3 linked regions of the Homo sapiens genome follow. The protein of the gene in region 2 interacts with the protein of the main gene of each other region in a biochemical or structural test. Each region holds a gene or a part of one and is shown on either strand. Other genes may lie near its edges.

The links.
Region 1: the proteins of MAEA (region 2) and RMND5A form a complex in vitro, tested with the Homo sapiens proteins (one study listed by BioGRID).
Region 3: of the proteins of MAEA (region 2) and UBE2R2, one has a biochemical effect on the other in vitro, tested with the Homo sapiens proteins (one study listed by BioGRID).

Annotation. Positions count from the first base shown.
Region 1 is NC_000002.12:86,723,241-86,730,290, reverse strand, and holds part of RMND5A (E3 ubiquitin-protein transferase RMND5A), read right to left. Parts: intron 1-7,050.
Region 2 is NC_000004.12:1,292,861-1,299,910, reverse strand, and holds part of MAEA (E3 ubiquitin-protein transferase MAEA), read right to left. Parts: intron 1,938-7,050; exon of another isoform or gene 1,796-1,937; intron 1-1,795.
Region 3 is NC_000009.12:33,918,110-33,920,899, reverse strand, and holds the end of UBE2R2 (ubiquitin-conjugating enzyme E2 R2), read right to left. Parts: 3' UTR 501-2,790; downstream 1-500. UniProt on the Homo sapiens protein: E2 ubiquitin-conjugating enzyme that accepts ubiquitin from an E1 ubiquitin-activating protein, and catalyzes its covalent attachment to other proteins by an E3 ubiquitin-protein ligase complex.

The DNA.
Region 1 (7,050 bases), on a different chromosome or scaffold from region 2:
GAATGAGACCCCCCCTCCCCCACCCCCCAAAAAAACAAAAACAAAAACAAAAAAAAATCAAACTCAGATTTCCACCTTCCCCTCTCCTAAACTTCCTATTTTCTACCTGGTTCCATAATGATCTACCCATCATTCATGTTTAAAACCTTGGATTAACCTTTGGTTTTTCCTGCCCTTTTCTCCTACTCTGCCAGACTCCATCTGTGCACCAACTCCTGGTCATTCCTTCCCTCAGAAATCCCTTTCATGTGTCCCTTTAAATTTCTACCACCAGTACCCAAAGACAGGTCCCTATTTCATCAAATCTAGGTTGACACTTAGCCTTAGCTAACGTTCTTGCCTCTAGTCAAACCTCACTCCCAACTCCAAACCAACCTAAATACTGCTGACAACTGGTCTCTGATCGTGTCCCTGTCCCCTCCCTATTCAAAATGTCCCCACCCCACCCCAAAGTAATTCAATATCTTCCCAGTCTACTACTTTCCCTGGTATCCATGGCTTTACAAAACCTGATTCCAATTTAATTTTAATGCTCTTATCGCCTTTCCCCTGCAATCTGGTCCTTCACCTCTCACTCCTCTACACCTTTGTTCTTGCCATCCTCCCCTCCAGGCACTCCATCTGCTCTTTCTGCTATCCATATTCAATCTCTGCTACTAAAACTTCCCATAGGTAAAAAGAGTCTCTCCTTGTCTCAAATCCCACCCCTTTTTGTCCACACCACTCATGTAGCATCTAGCCTAGATACATAACCGTGCATTACAGGGCACTGCTTTTGTTTGTGTGTTTGTTAAAAAATGCCAGTCTCATCTCCCTAACTGGACACAAAGTTCTTAGAGGATGAAAATGCTTGTTCTTTGTAACTCCTAGAAGATTTTGCTTAGTTCTACCTATAAATGGTGATTAATAACTACTGATGAGGTGATCTAAAGTTCAGTTGAAATAATGCCCATCTACTCCCATGCAGTTCTTTCTAAGGGCTCTCTCTCTTCACTGGTGTCTGTACTCACCAGAAGCACTGTTATACACTGTGTGCCGTGGTCTTGTTTTTTCCCCCTTTCAAATATGAGTCTGGTCTCTCCAACTAACTTCTAAGTTCCTTAAAGACTCTTTCTTATACCTTTTAAGCATTCTTTACAATGTTAAGCAGACCACTGGACACAGAGTGGTATTTAACATAAACCAGTAATAAAGACACCTAAATATTACCCAAAATGTCTCAATTAAACAGTGCTTGGGCCCGGCGTGGTGGCTCACGCCTATAATCCTAGCACTTTGGGAGGCCAAGGCGGGCAGATTACGAGGTCAAGAGATCGAGACCATCCTGGCCAACATGGTAAAATCTCGTCTCTACTAAAATACAAAAAAAAAATAGTCAGGCCTGGTGGCATGCGCCTGTAATCGCAGCTACTCGGGGGCTGAGGCAGGGGAATCGCTTGAACTTGGGAGGCAGAGGTTGCAGTGAGCCAAGATCATGCCACTGCACTCCAGCCTGGGTGACAGAGCGAGACTCAGCCTCAAAAAAAAAAAAGCTTAACACCACTTAAGGCACAGACTTTATAAATAACACGTCTACCCTGTTTTACAAATTTCAAAGCCAGTTCACGTCTATTATTTATTTCACTCTCATAACTCTGTGATGTCAGTTTACTGAAGGAAAAACTGGCTAAGCAAGATTGTAGGATCAGGCCGGGCGTGGTGGCTCATGCCTGTAATCCCAGCACTTTGGGAGGCTGAGACGGGTGGATTACTTGAGCCCAGGAGTTCAAGATCCGCCTAGCCAACATAGTGAAACTCCGTCACTACTAAAAATACAAAAATTAGCCATGCATTGTGCACACCTGTAATCCCAGCTACTTGGGAGCACAAGAATCGCTTGAACCCTGGAGGCAGAGGTTGCAGTGAGCTGAGATCACACACCACTGCACTCCAGCCTAGGTGACAGAGTGAGACTCTGTCTCCAAAAAAAAAAAAAAAGATTGTAGAACCAGTAAATTGGCAGTGCAAGGATTCAAACCCAGACCTCCTGGGCCCAGGGTCAAAATTTTAGGTACTATTCCACAAATACAGATTCATCTTCTCAATTAGCCTCCAAGTTCCTGGAGGACCAGGGCCATGAATAATGTTTCTTTTAAAAGATTCTCTCCTCATCTCCTCCCAAATGTCTTCATGTATCAATAAGATGAATTAAACCTATATGAATTCTGCAGATACAACAAACTCATCATAAATAACACACAGCCTGACACTACATTGTGCCCCCATAACAGACGAAATCACCATCCAGGCCTCCATCTTAAGTGGAGAAAGACTTGGTAATATAAGCCTATGGCCTCTCCAAGCGACATTCCCAAACAACCATTTTGAGCTCAGCCACACAATCACCACACCCATATAAGGTGAAAGCATACTGTATTTCTCAAAATCCTCGAGTCCTGCCAGACAGTCTAGTCTTTGTTCTCTGAAGGGTTGAGTTAACATCTAATCTAAAGAGAATGGCCAGAAGTGTCTGCTACTCTCAGAGCTTTCAAGGAAACGTCCAGTTAGAGAGCATCATCTCCTGGAAGTACCACGGGTCTCCAAGTACACATAGCTCAGAGCCAGGGCCCTCCACAATTTTCTCCCTAAACTGCATTTTTGGATCATTTTTAAAGATTTTGGAAGCCTTACAGATGAAGAAGCAGGGCCCTAAATAAAAATAAGTTAGTTTTAATATTCCAAGTGAACAGTTTGCTAAAACACCATTTTCATCATCCTAAAGACTAAGAGACTAAGACATGAAAACAACAGAAACTTCTCTATTAGCTCTAGTATGACAGTATCACAGAAGTGTTGGCAAGTTTCTCCTTACCAATGTTATTATCCAGAGTTAGAAACTACTTTAGAAATAAAATAACTTTAGGAAAATTACTTTACTATGTCAAGCATTAAAGTAATTTCAAAAAAGTTCTAGAGGAACATGAACCAAGTTGTATTCTCTAGTCTATAGATTAAGTCATACTAACAACTCACTACTTGAATTATATGAGCATTATAGTTAGGAGGCCAGGCAAAAGCTGAGAAGGCGAGGCTAGTCAGGAAAACATCTCAGAGAATGTTACTGATATAACATGTAGCTGTTGCACTGTAATAGACATATATTACTCTGTCTGGGTTTAAGTGTTCCTTTCTAGAACTGTCTCTTTACCTGATGAACAGTGTATTATAAGGCCATATACCTCCTGAGGGGGTGAGCACAGCTCAAGGTGGCCAGAAGACCTCACTCCCTGGTCCCAGTTACTGATTCAGGGAAAGGATCCATAACGGAATAATAAAGGTACTCCCTGGAGTATCTCCAACAAAATGGCCATGTTCCTGTCTTTTGAGCTCCATTGGTCATCTCTACCCCATGTGAAGAAAACTACCCTGAAAATAAAGCCAACAGTTGACAGAAGAGAACAAGATCAGTCCTGATGACATGCCTGGTGCCCCTGGAGCCAGCCTAGCCCTAACCTCAGCCTATTTATACATCAACAAATTCCATTTTAATGAACACTATTATGTCACCTGCCAGTCTAAATGAATACGGTGCCAAATAAAAAAGAATTAATTATCTCCAGAGTACGTCTGGAAAAAGAATGGCTAACAAAGTTAAATCTACTTCTAAACCCAACTGGAAACACCAATATACTGACTTTTTATTCTTACCACCTAAAATGGCCTAAATAACTTGAGAACCAGTCTGTTCTTCTCTTAGAATGTTTGAACAATGTCCTCCCAAACTTTTATTTATGACCTACTGATATACTATTTTCCAGACTAGATGTTAAAAACAGATATCAAATTGTATTCAAAACAAAGTCACTATTCTCTCAAGAGTGTCTTGTTAGTATTTAGCAAAAGTCTGGGTAACAAATGGGCAACCTGGCTATGAGGCCTACTCCATGCACACCAAAGAATAAGGCTAAAAAGGTAAACAAGCTACAAGTCTACCAAGCCCCGATATAATACATTTACTTTCATTCAAAACAATATATTCAACACTGGTCGGCTCTGAAAAAGCACAGATCATTCATATATACAAATAAGCATACTTTTCAACACATGTGTTTAATATACACAACCCAAATTCTAGATTGGAAGATTATACCTAACATGCGACCCTCAACCTCTGGTTTTTGTGTACTGATGCAATATCATACCACAGCAATGAGTTAAAAATGTGACCTCCACAAGTTTCTTTTTTTGTTTTTCATGTTTTACTTGCCTACTTACCTTCTCATTTGTTACCTTCACATTTTTAAAAAGAAAGCAGTTCTCCAACTGGTAACCAAAGTTTCAACAGTTTCTTTGATTCACCAAAGAGATAAGGGTAGGAGTTATGGTTTACATGAGTTTTACTACTAGAAGTCACAACATACACACACACCAAAGGAGTTTTAGGTGCTAATACAGTATATGTTGATCACTCCCACAGATGAAGACATCTTTACCAACTTGCAAAGTGAGATAACACTAAGCCTTAATCATAGTAAATGGAAATACATATCTGATGCGTTAAAGAAAAAAGGAAAAGTGACAAATCGTCATTTCACTGGATTCTTTTAAAATTTTTTCTGGAGGTCGGGCGCAGTGGCTCACGCCTGTAATCCCTGCAGTTTGGAAGGCCGAGGCGCGTGGACTGCTTGAGGTCAGGTGTTCAAGACCAGCCTGACCCACATGTTGAAACCCCGTCTCTACTAAAAATACAAAAATTAGCCAGGCATGGTGGCAGGTGGTGCCTGTAATCCCAGCTACTCAGGAGGCTGAGGCAGGAGAATTGCCTGAAGCCAGGAGGCGGAGGTTGCAGTGAGCTAAGATCGCACCACTGCACTCCAGCCTGGGTGACAGAGGGAGGCTGTCTCAAAAAACAACAAAAAAATTTTTTTTCTGGAGACTGGCATTTATGTCTGTGAAGTGGGCAACCAGGTGGTCCAGGAACAAGAGTAGAAAGATTTTTCAATGGGTGTCCTTTTTTATCATTTGAGTTTATACCATTTGAATGTACTATTCACTGGGTTATCTTTTTCATTGTTTGAATGGATACCATTTGAATGTATGACTTACTAAAAATTAATAAATAAATTTTAAATTTAGAAAATTCCTTGAAAGTCACTTTCAGAAACCACATTAGAACTCCGTTAGTCTAAAAATAATCAGAAAAGAATACTGCATGTCCTTTACTCTTACAAAAACTGCAATTTTCCCAAGTATACTTTTAAATGTGTCCTGAAACCATTACCAACTGTTTCTGCCTAATTTTCTTTCACAAAGTATGAGTGCAGAATACCAGCAAAACATGATAAATAGTTCTTTTCTGTTTTTCCCTTCCACCACAGAGGTGCTAATGGGAAACAATATAAATTTGCCAATAGGAAAAAAATGCTAAAAGGCATATACTCACAAATCAAATCACTAAAAGTTAACCATACAGTAGTTAACCCTGTTAAGCCAGGGTTATCCAAAGCACCGCTCCCATACCACTGATGCGAATGGTAATTTTAGCTAGTATGTAAACTAATATTTTAATTGTTATGAATTTATTTTAACATGTAGTTTATTATACCTAATACCTACATACCACATGTAGGACTACACAAATATCACTGCCTAAGATAAATCTACTTAAGTAAAATCGTGAATCCATCTGAAAAATAAGAGTGCACATGTGTATGAGTGAAGTTTTAGAAGCACCAGTGCACTATACAAATTAGATCGAGGCACACTGGGAATGACCACCAGCCTACATTAACCACAATGAACTTAGACCAAACTTCGTGCTCACAGGGAAACTCTCACTGAAAGGCTGGCACAACTAAATGACAGAAGCTGTGATCTCTATTCCTCTTACCTTGGACACCTCACTGCAGGCTCTGGATCACTCCCCACCCTCCTATCTACCACCCTAAGGTTTCTAATTCCAAAGGCATGAAGAGAAGTCTAGAGTCAGTCTCCAGGGAGAGGAATGTCTTGGCCTCGGCAGAGCTCTTCAGTATTCTCCCTGGTTCTTATTGCCTCTTCATGTTTCTATTACACCTATGTTGTCCCTGAACCACCAATATTCCCTAACTGTCTATGGCACCAAGTCGAAGCCTGCACTTCCCTCTCAGAGCCTTATATTCCATTATTGTTCTCTGCTGCAGGCCTGATACCAGTCCAACCCCATTTAAAAGAAAAAAAAAAAAAGATATTCCTGTTGTCAGGCTGACGGATTTGGCCAGAGGTGGATTAAATGGCAGAGCACAAACCAATTCACCAGGTATGAGAGACCAGCCCATACTATCCTCATTTCCCCAAGTGTATCTGCATTAAGAAACTTGCATTTTAAAAAAGATTAACGAGAGAAATTTTATGTAAAAGAATTTCAAGCTACTTAAAGGTGATTTAGACCACCTGAGAAATTTTAGGGCTCACTGCAGGACTATCTCCCAGCCAGCAATCAGGCAGTATTTACAATCTGGAATAAGGGTGCTGAGACTAGAAAAGGGTTGTCAATGGGCTTACTAACTAAACTCTTATTTATGTATGATCAGTTTCCATCACAAACTATCCTAACAGCTCATTTAGTATATAGCTGTCTGCTCACAACTTCAGAGATGAAAAAAAAATTTTAACATAAAACATTCATCCTCAGAAACTGAACCAATCCCTTTAGGTTGGCTAAAGGATGCTTCTGCAACAGTCATTCACCAGTATGATGCAATGATGTGTTCTATATAGTCCTCAAAAATTCTGTTTTATTCATACCAGATTCTTGCAAGTATTACCACAAGTAATCTCAGAGAATGAGGTCCAAAGTCCTGACAGAGGGGTCCCAATTAGAGCCTCTCAGGTTATCAGAATCATTTGCCCAGACAGGTATATTCAGAAGCCCAAAAATCTTCCCTTTAAACTTGAAAATAGAGTTCCAAACTCAGTTTTCAGTAAAATACCTTTGAGAAGGGCATATTTAAGTTTCAATGTAATATCTACCACATCACCTGCCGAGAACTTTAATTTAGAAATCATCTGTTTTCAAAAATACCATAGCCC
Region 2 (7,050 bases):
TGGTCAGAAACAAGCAAAATACCGTTATGTGAGACAGCGGTCACGACTCACGAGGGAAAAGGGCAGAAGTGGGAGATGCTGGGGCTGCAGTTTCAACAGTGGAGTCAGAGAAGCTTCACAAGCTGACAGCTCAGCGAAGATTGAAGGAGGTGAGGACATGGGACCACGGACGTTGGCAAAGATTGAAGGTGAGGACATGGGACCATGGACATCTGTGGAAGGAGCGCTCCAGACAGAGGAAGGTGGCAGTAAAACCCTGGGCTCGGCATGCTGGCCTGGCTGAATGGCGGCAGAAAGGCCACTGGGCCCAGCACCCTACAGGGCAAAGGGCCTGGGAGCCACTGTAACGACCCTGGCCTTCATCCCCAGGTCAGGAAACTCCTAGAACAAAAAGACGACAGGATCTGGCGCTGGGGCAGCCGGGGTGGGCATGAGCAGAGCAGGAGCAGCCAGAAGGCTATTCAATATTCCAGAGAGAGATGCGACTTGAGCCGCAGGGGCAGAGGTGGGAAGAGCAGCAGCAGCTGGGCCTGGGCATGTCCTGACGCCAGGGTGGAGGGGCAGACGGGCTGGGCATGAGCTGTGACAACAGAGGCATCAAGGCCAACCTGAAGGTTCTGGCCTGACCAAGGGAGATGGAGGGGCTGCCCTTCCCGAAGAGAAGGGAGACTGGTAGAATTGGTTTGGGCAGCAGGTGTTAAGATGATAAGCTCAGATCTAAATATGCCAAGGAGCTGGGCATGGTGGCTCACACCTGTTATTCCAACACTTTTGGACGCCCAGGAGGGAGGAATGCTTGAGCCCAAGAGATGGAGACCAGCCTAGACAACGGAGCTAGAACCTATCTCTACAAATAAAAAAATTAGCCAGACACGGAAGCAGGCGCCCGTGGTCCCAGTTACCCGGGAGGCTGAGGCAGGAAGATCACCTGAGCCCAGGAGGTCAAGGCTGAAGTGAGCTGTGATCATGCCACTGCACTCCCGCCTGGGTGCCAGAGTGAGATCCCATCTCTAAAAATAATAATAATTTTAATAATAATAATTTTAATGCCAAAGTGCCTTGCCAAGTGGGTATGTTTTACAGGCTACTGGATACAGGGCTCTGGGGTTGGGAAGATACCTGCCTGGGAGTCATCAGTATACACAGAGGGTCCTATCAGTCCACTAGACCCTGTGAGAGCACCAAGGCAGCGGTGCTCACAGCAACACCCAGGGCCAAGGACTGAGCCCGGGGGGAAACGCGAGGATGGCGCTCTAGGAGCCCGAGGGGGTGAGCTGTGTTCCAGCCCTGTGAGAGGTCGAGATGGGCAGCAAGAATCCATCATGGGTCTCAGCAGTGTCTTGGGGTTACCTGGTGCCCTGACTATAGCACTGTGATGGGGGTAAAACCAGATGAGAAGCAATTCCAGAGACCCCAAGGCAGGGCTGGCTCAGACAGAGGGGACCTGTGGGTCCCGCACACAGTTAACCAGAAGACGGCGCGTGTGCCTCTTCGTGGATAACCAGAAGACGGCGCGTGTGCCTCTTCGTGGATAACCAGAAGACGGCGCGTGTGCCTCTTCGTGGATAACCAGAAGACGGCACATGCCTCTTCAGGTCACAGGGATGGGGCAGGGGGTCTGGTGCATGAACAAAGGCTGGCCTTGGGCGGGGCACAAATGACATATCTCCAGTAAAAGAAAGGAAACAGTGAGCACAAGCAGGCAGGCGACAGACAGGGCCAAGCCGCGGGCAGAGCACAAGGACGGGGCAGGCATGGGGGGCTCATGGAGAAGGAGGGGCATATGGAACAGTACCTGGGGTACAGGGTGCTAAAATGCCTCAAGAAGCATGGCTATGCTGCCAGGCAGTACTCGACACCCACTCCAGGCAGCAACCGGGTTCCTCAGCAGATAGGTGCGGCTTCTGTGGCCAGTGCAGGGGCCTTGCACAGCGGGGTTTCCATGCTGGAATGTTCTAGAACAATGGGAAGCAGAGAAGGGCAGGGGATGGGGCTACATCGCGAGGGGTGGAGGCAAGGGAGAAAGGAAACGCAAGAGGCTGACCACAGCCAGATGAGAGCACAGGCCATGAGACCAAGACATACTCTAGAATGCGGCAAGTGGACAAAAGTGAGATGCGAAGTTTAGGAATTTCCCAGACAGACGGGGGAGAAATTGGTTCGGCCAACAGCCATTGACTGACTCCTGTGCCAGGCACTCGTGGGTGTGACGTGAACGACGACAAAGGACGGCCCGTGCCCTCGCAGAGCAGACGCTCTAAAGGAGACGCCCAACCAAAGCACAGAGAGATGCAGGCGACCGCGTCAGACTGTGACGAGTGCTGCAAAGGAAACCAGGCAGGCAAGGGACAAAGGGCAAAAGGAACCACATCCTAATTTTATTTAGGGCAGCAATGAGCCCACACTCAAGCGCGTGCTCTCTCTCTATATGTATGTATACACACACACATACGCACGTACTTTTTCAGGCTCCTCCAAAGCTAGAAATGGCCAGCCCCGTGCTCTGGGGAATGAGCTGAAGTGTAAACGCTTGGGAGGATGTCCACTAAGGCCCCCACGCAGGGAGCTGGCCACGCAGGGCGGCACTGATTCCCCCTTACCCTCCTCCTGGCCGCGAAGGCCGCAGCCCCAGCAGCCATCGTGGACTCAAGGATAAACGTGAGAAACAGAAATCGAGAAAACCTCCGAGTTCTCGGCTGTCACTGAACAAGTGCCGGGGGACATCGCTGTCAACTGACTTGGGAAGGGTGGCTTAGTAAGGCAGGTCTGGGGCTCGTCTGGGGCCCCAAGGCCGAGATGCGGCATTTGGTTTTGCGCCTGGTATCGTATCTTTGAACTGCCTTCCAGACATGCGAAGAGAGCTCCGGGAGGTGACTACACGGGATGGCCTCAGGGAGAGAGGCCTGGGGAGGGCAGCAGTGTGGGGACAGGAGCTTGGAGACCGTCTGTGAAGCCACACAACCTCTGGAGGGCTGGCTGGTGACATAAAACAAAAGGCCTCCAAGACTAGAGAAGACAGCATAGGCAAGTGAGGACATGCAGCGAGGGGTGGGGAGAGCCCAGAGGATGGTGTCACGGGAGCCGAGTGATGGGAGCGTCTCGAGGCAGTGGGGTCCGCTGTGGACTGACCGCTTTCAGGAGCATCATCCTGTCCTCAAGAGGAACATCTGGGTGGAGTGTTGGGGGGCAAAAATCTGATTTAGGTAAAACAGGAAGAGAGACATGAAGGGGCAGAGACAGGGAGTAGTAGCTGGAGGAGGACGGGGGCAAGGAAGGGGTTTTCACGAGAGGAAGACTCAGAGCCACGTGCACACCAGGGAGCTGCACAGCCAATGGGAAAACCGACCAACAGAGAGAGAACCAAGTGCAGGAGCAGCCACAAGGCAAAGGGCACAGCACAGGTGAGGGGGGCACAGCGCAAGTGAGGGAGGCACAGGCACGGGTGAGGGGGGCACAGGCACGGGTGAGGAACGGCACAGGCATGGGTGAGGGGTACAGGTGAGGAATGGCATGGGTGACGGCTGCACAGGCACAGGTGAGGGGGGCACAGGTGCGGGTGGGGGGGCACAGGTGAGGGTAGCATAGGTGAGGTGCAGATGTAGGTGGGGGGCGCACGTGAAGGTGGTGCAGGAGCAGGTGAGGGAGGAGCAGGTGAGGGAGGAGCAGGTGAGGGGGGCACAGGCACAGGTGGGGGGCACAGGTGAGGGCAGCACAGGTGAGGGCAGTGCAGACGTGGGTGAGGGGGGCACAGGTGCGGGTGGGGGGGCACAGGTGAGGGTAGCATAGGTGAGGTGCAGATGTAGGTGGGGGGCGCACGTGAAGGTGGTGCAGGAGCAGGTGAGGGAGGAGCAGGTGAGGGAGGAGCAGGTGAGGGGGGCACAGGCACAGGTGGGGGGCACAGGTGAGGGCAGCACAGGTGAGGGCAGTGCAGACGTGGGTGAGGGGGGCACAGGTGCGGGCGAGGGTGGCACAGGTGTGGGTGAGGGGGTGCAGGTGAAGGCAGCACAGGTGAGGGCGGTGCAGACACAGGTGAAGGGGCAAAGGCGCAGGTGTGGTGGGCACCGGCATGGGTGAGGAGGGCACAGGCGTGGGTGAGGGGGCACAGGCGCTGGGGAGGGGGGCACAGGCGCGGGTGAGGGGGGCAGAGGCACGGGTGAGGGGGCACAGGCGCGGGTGAGGGGGTACAGGAGCGGGTGAGGGGGGTACAGGTGTGGGTGAGGGGGTATAGGAGCGGGTGAGGGGGTACAGGAGCGGGTGAGGGGGGTACAGGTACGGGTGATGGGGCTCATCCACCACGGGTGTGGGAGCAGGTGCAGGTCAGGCAGGGTCTGCGTGACAGGCATGGGCGAGCATGAAGTAGGAGGGAAAGTCTGAGAGAAGGACAGGTATGAAAGGCTCGCCTGGGAGGAGAGGAAGGAGGCTGCTCTGGGCCCCTCCCTCGAGTGGGGCAGCACTCAGGGTCCCGGTCCGGGTCCACAGTCAGCCATCAGCACAGCAGGTGCTTTCTTCTGCTCAGCCACATTCAGCTCAACAGTCACTAAATGTGGTATTAACACAGTGAATAATTCTTTTTGTTCAGGTTTTCAAAATAATGGCCCCTAGCTATAACGATTCTGAAATAACAGACCTAAAAATCATCAGCAGTTACCCCGGCAGGAAGTGTGCTTTGCGATGCCTGGGTCAGCACCCAGACATCCCCACTCGGCCTGAAGCCCCCAGAGGGTGGGGCTCGCAGCACAGCCTCTCTGCAGACGGGGCAGTCACATGCTACAGGCACCGGCCGGCCTTGTCTTCATTCTGGTGCCAATGTGTCTCCTTGGGCTTGCTTCCCATTCTGCTGACCCCTGTACCCACAGACCGAGTCACTGCCCAGCACCCAGTCTCACTGTGAGACCCTCCCTGCACAGCTCTGGGACACCCCCAGCCACATCACCCCAATGGTGCTGTGTGCCTGTGTGCCTACTGGGGTGAGAGCCGGCCAGGACTTCAACACGGTCCACAGAGCCTCACCCCAAAACTTAGCTCCGCCAACCAGCTCACAATATCGCATTCACTGGAGGAAGCTCATCCCCACCCCCGCCCCTGCCCCTGCCCCTGCCCCCGGCCCCACCCCCGTCCCCTGCCACTGTCCAACATCACCTCAACCTCATCAGCGTCTTTAAAGGATCTGAGATGTCTGTGTGTGCTTGTGCTGATGCCTCCCTCCCACCGGAGCGTAGACAGGGGCCTCACTTGTCTCCCCATCATGCTAGCCCAGGGCCTGACTGTGCAGGGCCTGACCGTACCTGGCCGATGGAGGCTCTCAGACCACTGCTGCGGAGGGGGGTATGGGAGAAGCTAAGTGCACCTGCAGCCCTGCTCTGCAGCCCGGCGGCGGTGCCTTGCTTAGGTCCCAGGGCCGCTCCAGGCCTCACGTCAGTACTGCCTCCAACCTAGCCCAGCCATTACGGTGAATCAGGCATTAAAAAGCACTTTCTTGACTTGAAATGTGTTAAAAAAATAATACTTAAAAAAACAAAAACAAAACCAACCCCCCAGCTAGCAGTGAATTCAAGTCTACATCCTTATCTCAGCCTTGCCCAACCAGCTGGAAAGGCCCAGGCCTGGGAGGGAAGACCTGTGCCAGCGCGGAGGCCGCGGAAGCCAGCCCAGGGCCAAACCACCAGCAAACGGTGGGAGAGGCGAGGGGAGTGGAGCTGGGAGCCACAAAGGGCAGACCATGGCTCTTCTGGGCAGAAGGAATTTCCACTGTGCTCTAGAGACCGGGCGGATTCTGGAGGGCTGTGACGTTACTGCAGATAAAGTACATCGAAAAAGCCGGCCACAGAAGAGGTGGAGACCCGGCCTAAGACTCCTCAGACACGGCATCACCAGGGTCCAACCCAATGTGTGTGTCAGTAAGTCAAACGCTTCGTGGTTGCCTGTGTTTCTCACACTCGAGAACACATGATCCTCCCAAATCCAGCCAAGATGGAGTGAAGAAAACTACAAAAGGCGCAGGAGCAGTTACAACTTCAGCACACAGCTGGCACCCGAACTCCCTACCACAGGCACAGACCCAGGCTGTGAGGCATCAGGGCCATGCCTGGGCAACCAGACTGTCATCAAACCAAAGGCAGAACATGCAAATCTTCCTGTAGAGAATTCAGACACCTGAGAATGCAACCACAAGCCCGGTGTTTCTCAGCCTGTCCTCTGGGGAGAGGACAGCATCACCACCTTGGGTGTGAGAGGACTCACTGGAGCTGGGAACCCTTGCTGGGGCTCCAGGAGAGGAGAGGTGGGCCCAGGTGGGGTTCACAGAGAGGAGCCAGGTCCAGACCAGGGTCTCCAGGTGATGAACACCACTTCCCGCCCTGGGCTGTGCAGACACCCATGTGAAATTCTCTAAACTATTATTTTTCTTCGGCTATCTGAAGGGAAATAGTAGGAGTAAATACACCAAAATGTTAATGAAGTTCTCTCTGTGCAGCAGGGTAACTTGAAGAAAAAACAAATTACTTTTATTTATTTATTATTTGAGACAGGGTCTCACTCTGTCACCCAGGCTGGAGGGCAGTGGTGCAATCTCGGTTCACCACAGCCTGGATCTCCTGGCTCAAGTGATCCTCTCGCCTCAGCCTCCCAATTAGCTGGGACTACAGGCGCACACCACCGCACCCAACTCATCAAATTACTTTTATAATCAGAAAAAAAAAAACCTTTTACAAAATAATGAAAGCAAGGGCTTCCAATTCAAGATGGTGAACTATGCATGTTGAATTGAAAGATGGTGAATTCCTGAGGTCAGGAGTTCAAGACCAGCTGGACAACATGGAGAAACCACGTCTCTACTAAAAAATACAAAAAATTAGCTGGGCATGGTGGCGGGTGCCTGTAATCTCAGCTACTCGGGAGGCTGAGGTAGGAGAATTGCTTGAATCTGGGAGGCAGAGGTTGCAGTGAGCTGAGATTGTGCCACCGCGCTCCAGCCTGGGCAACAGAGTGAGACTCCGTCTCAAAAAAGAAAAAAAAAAAAAAAAAAGATGGTGAGTTATTCATCTTTCCCCT
Region 3 (2,790 bases), on a different chromosome or scaffold from region 2:
ACAATCTACTTTTTCTGCTTTTGGCCTCTACAATTGAGAGCGATGGTCCTGTCATCAGATGGGACCGATACTCCTATTAACCCACAGCTTGGGACCTTACCTAGAAAAAAGGTAAGTGTCTACAGGTAAAATTAGGACTTTTATTAAATAGGGTGATCTGCCTGATCCCTGCTATTAGCAGCAGTAAGTTAGGAAAACAAATGACAGTGAAAATGTTTGCCTAAGGAAAGCAGCAGAGCACCCCTCAATCCTTCACTGACCTACTTGTATCAGCTCCCGTTTTCAGAATCAAGTTTAACAAATGGCTACGTCTATAAGGAGCTTGAAGGGACTGGGGATACACCAGGGAGGTGAGTTAGTTAGAAAGGCAGATTCCCCAGTTTTGGTTTTTGTCTAATTTTTCAGCTGAGCCCCAGCGTAATCTGCAAACTTAACAGTGATAATGAGACCACCTTTTAGTTTTCTTTAACACAAGGTAAAAAAAGAAGAGGGTCATTTCATGGGGAAGTAGCAATACAGGTATTTTATTTCACATTTTATTAGTAGACAGATGGGCAGAAAAAGACAAAATAAACCACTAAAGGGGAAGTCAACACAAAATCCGTCAGATAATCTTTTCTCATAAGTTAAACTGAAGCAAAACATCTACAATTTCAGCTAAAACTATTAAAGTCAGGTGTGTCCTGCTGGTTTCAGAATAGTTGAAAATTGCATCTGAATCCTTTTAGTTGTAAATGTAAACCTTGTTTGTTTTATCAGGATGGGAGGGGTGGAGAGTTCCTTTCCAGTGGAGAGCTGCACATTTCCCCTTCCAATCAGTTTCTTACAACATGTGCCCCAAACGTAAGGAAACCAGCAAGTAAAGAAGCAATTTGCCAGGGTAAGGGAAAGAAGGTTCTACAAAAAAGTTTGACTAATAGAAAATAACTCTGGAATGATTGATAAAAGGAGAAGGGGGGAAGACTGAAAGAATCAACAGCAGAATCATATACTTCTCCACCCAGCCTCAAAATACACAGAACTGAAGAGCATCTAGTGAGGCCTCAATTAGAACTAAAAGGAATCTAAAAATGCAGGATTTTGAGTTCATGTCACATCAAATAATAAGCAAAACTGTACGTACATGGTTCCGGATTGAGCCTGAGACCTCCACTCCCAGAAGGGGGAAAAAAAATTACAAACTCAAGTATTTTCCACAGGGATGTGTTCTCAGGGACAGAGCTCTGGAACCAGCCTCTGGGTTTCGTTCAGTCAGTCTAAAATACCAGAATGTCCACCTGCTAGCAAGAGACTTACCCAGTCTTCTGGAACTGATTGTACTCATCAGAGGCAAACCCAGCCCTTGACACTTTTAACACCCCAAAGGGCTGAAAGGTACAACCTCCACTTGGCGCTCCGGCTCCCTGAGTCAATGTCTAACAGAGGCCAATAGGGCCTGATGGAACAGCTGTGCAGCAGAGCACCTCCCGCAATGCCAGGGTGCTGGGGCTGCCCTGGGAGTGAGATGCTTTAGCAAAGGGGAATGAAAGGCTTAATTTTAGGGCTCCAAGAGAATAAGACCAAGCTACTGGCTGTAAACTTGCATGGGGGTTTGGGGGCATTTTGGGGGAGGTAAATCAGCACTGTGAGAGGCTTTGGCTCCACAAGATTTGCAGGTTAATCTGGAAGCATTACTTACAAAGTATGGGGAGTAAAAAGGTAGTTCCAACATCTATGAGAGTTTGTAATCAGGTAACTTGACAATGTATTACGAAGCTGCTCTGTTCCATGGATCTGACTAAAATCACTAGATTCTGGGTGCAAGTAGCAACCCTGGCCCTGTGGAGATCACAGATTCTGGGACCAGGCTCAACAGTGTCCCCTAAGAGCCTTGCTTGTTAAACAGTCCCATTTCATACCAGACCAAACTTTAGAGGCTGGGAAGGGCTGCTGGGACCAAACTTTAGAGGCCGGGAAGGGCTGCTGGGAAGAAGTCATGTGTTTGGGAGTTTGAAGAGTGAAAACCCTGAGATCAGAATGGAAGGAGGAGCTAAGGAAGTAAGCGTCACCTACTCTGGCCATCCTAGGATCCCTCCTGCCCCGTCCCTAATCTGCCCTTTGGTTCTTTCTGAGTTACGAGCCAAAGGAGGAGTTGACACTAGTGCCCAGGGGTCTGAAATAGGACTACAGTCAGTCCTTGCTGCATTTTCCTTCTGAAATCTGATTTTACATTATAGCGGTTTCCTCCAAATAATGCCCTCCTATGATCTGGTGCACCCCCATAACAACCAAAAATTACCTTCAAGTTCTGAAGTCTCCTGGATGGTGAAGGCTGCTGGATCTCAATATTGATTGAAGCAACACGATTGAGATCTGGAAAATCAAAGCTGCAGCAAGTGCATTGCAGGAAGATCTAGCCTTATCTGGCCTAAAAACTGCCTGCAGTCAACTCCCTCAGCCCTGCCACAATTTCTATGCATAATTCTGCTTGCACTCCACAGCCTAAGTATGTTGAAAGGAGAAAAAAAGTTCAGATCACATCCAATGAAGAAGGCGGTAACTCGTCTCACACACATCCAAGTTTTTCACTATCAGTATAAGCAGCTCGATGAAAACCGAAATCTTAACACATGCACCTAGGATTAATACTGAGTAATTAAAAGTGGCTACTTAAAAAACAAAAACAAAACGTCATGGTACGAGTGTATTTTTGATGGGAAGGCCATGCTAAATCTATAAAACAGATGTTTCCTCTCCCAACAGTGGTCACCAGTAGTTTCAACTTTTTCCCCCCAGTAGCATCAACCAAAC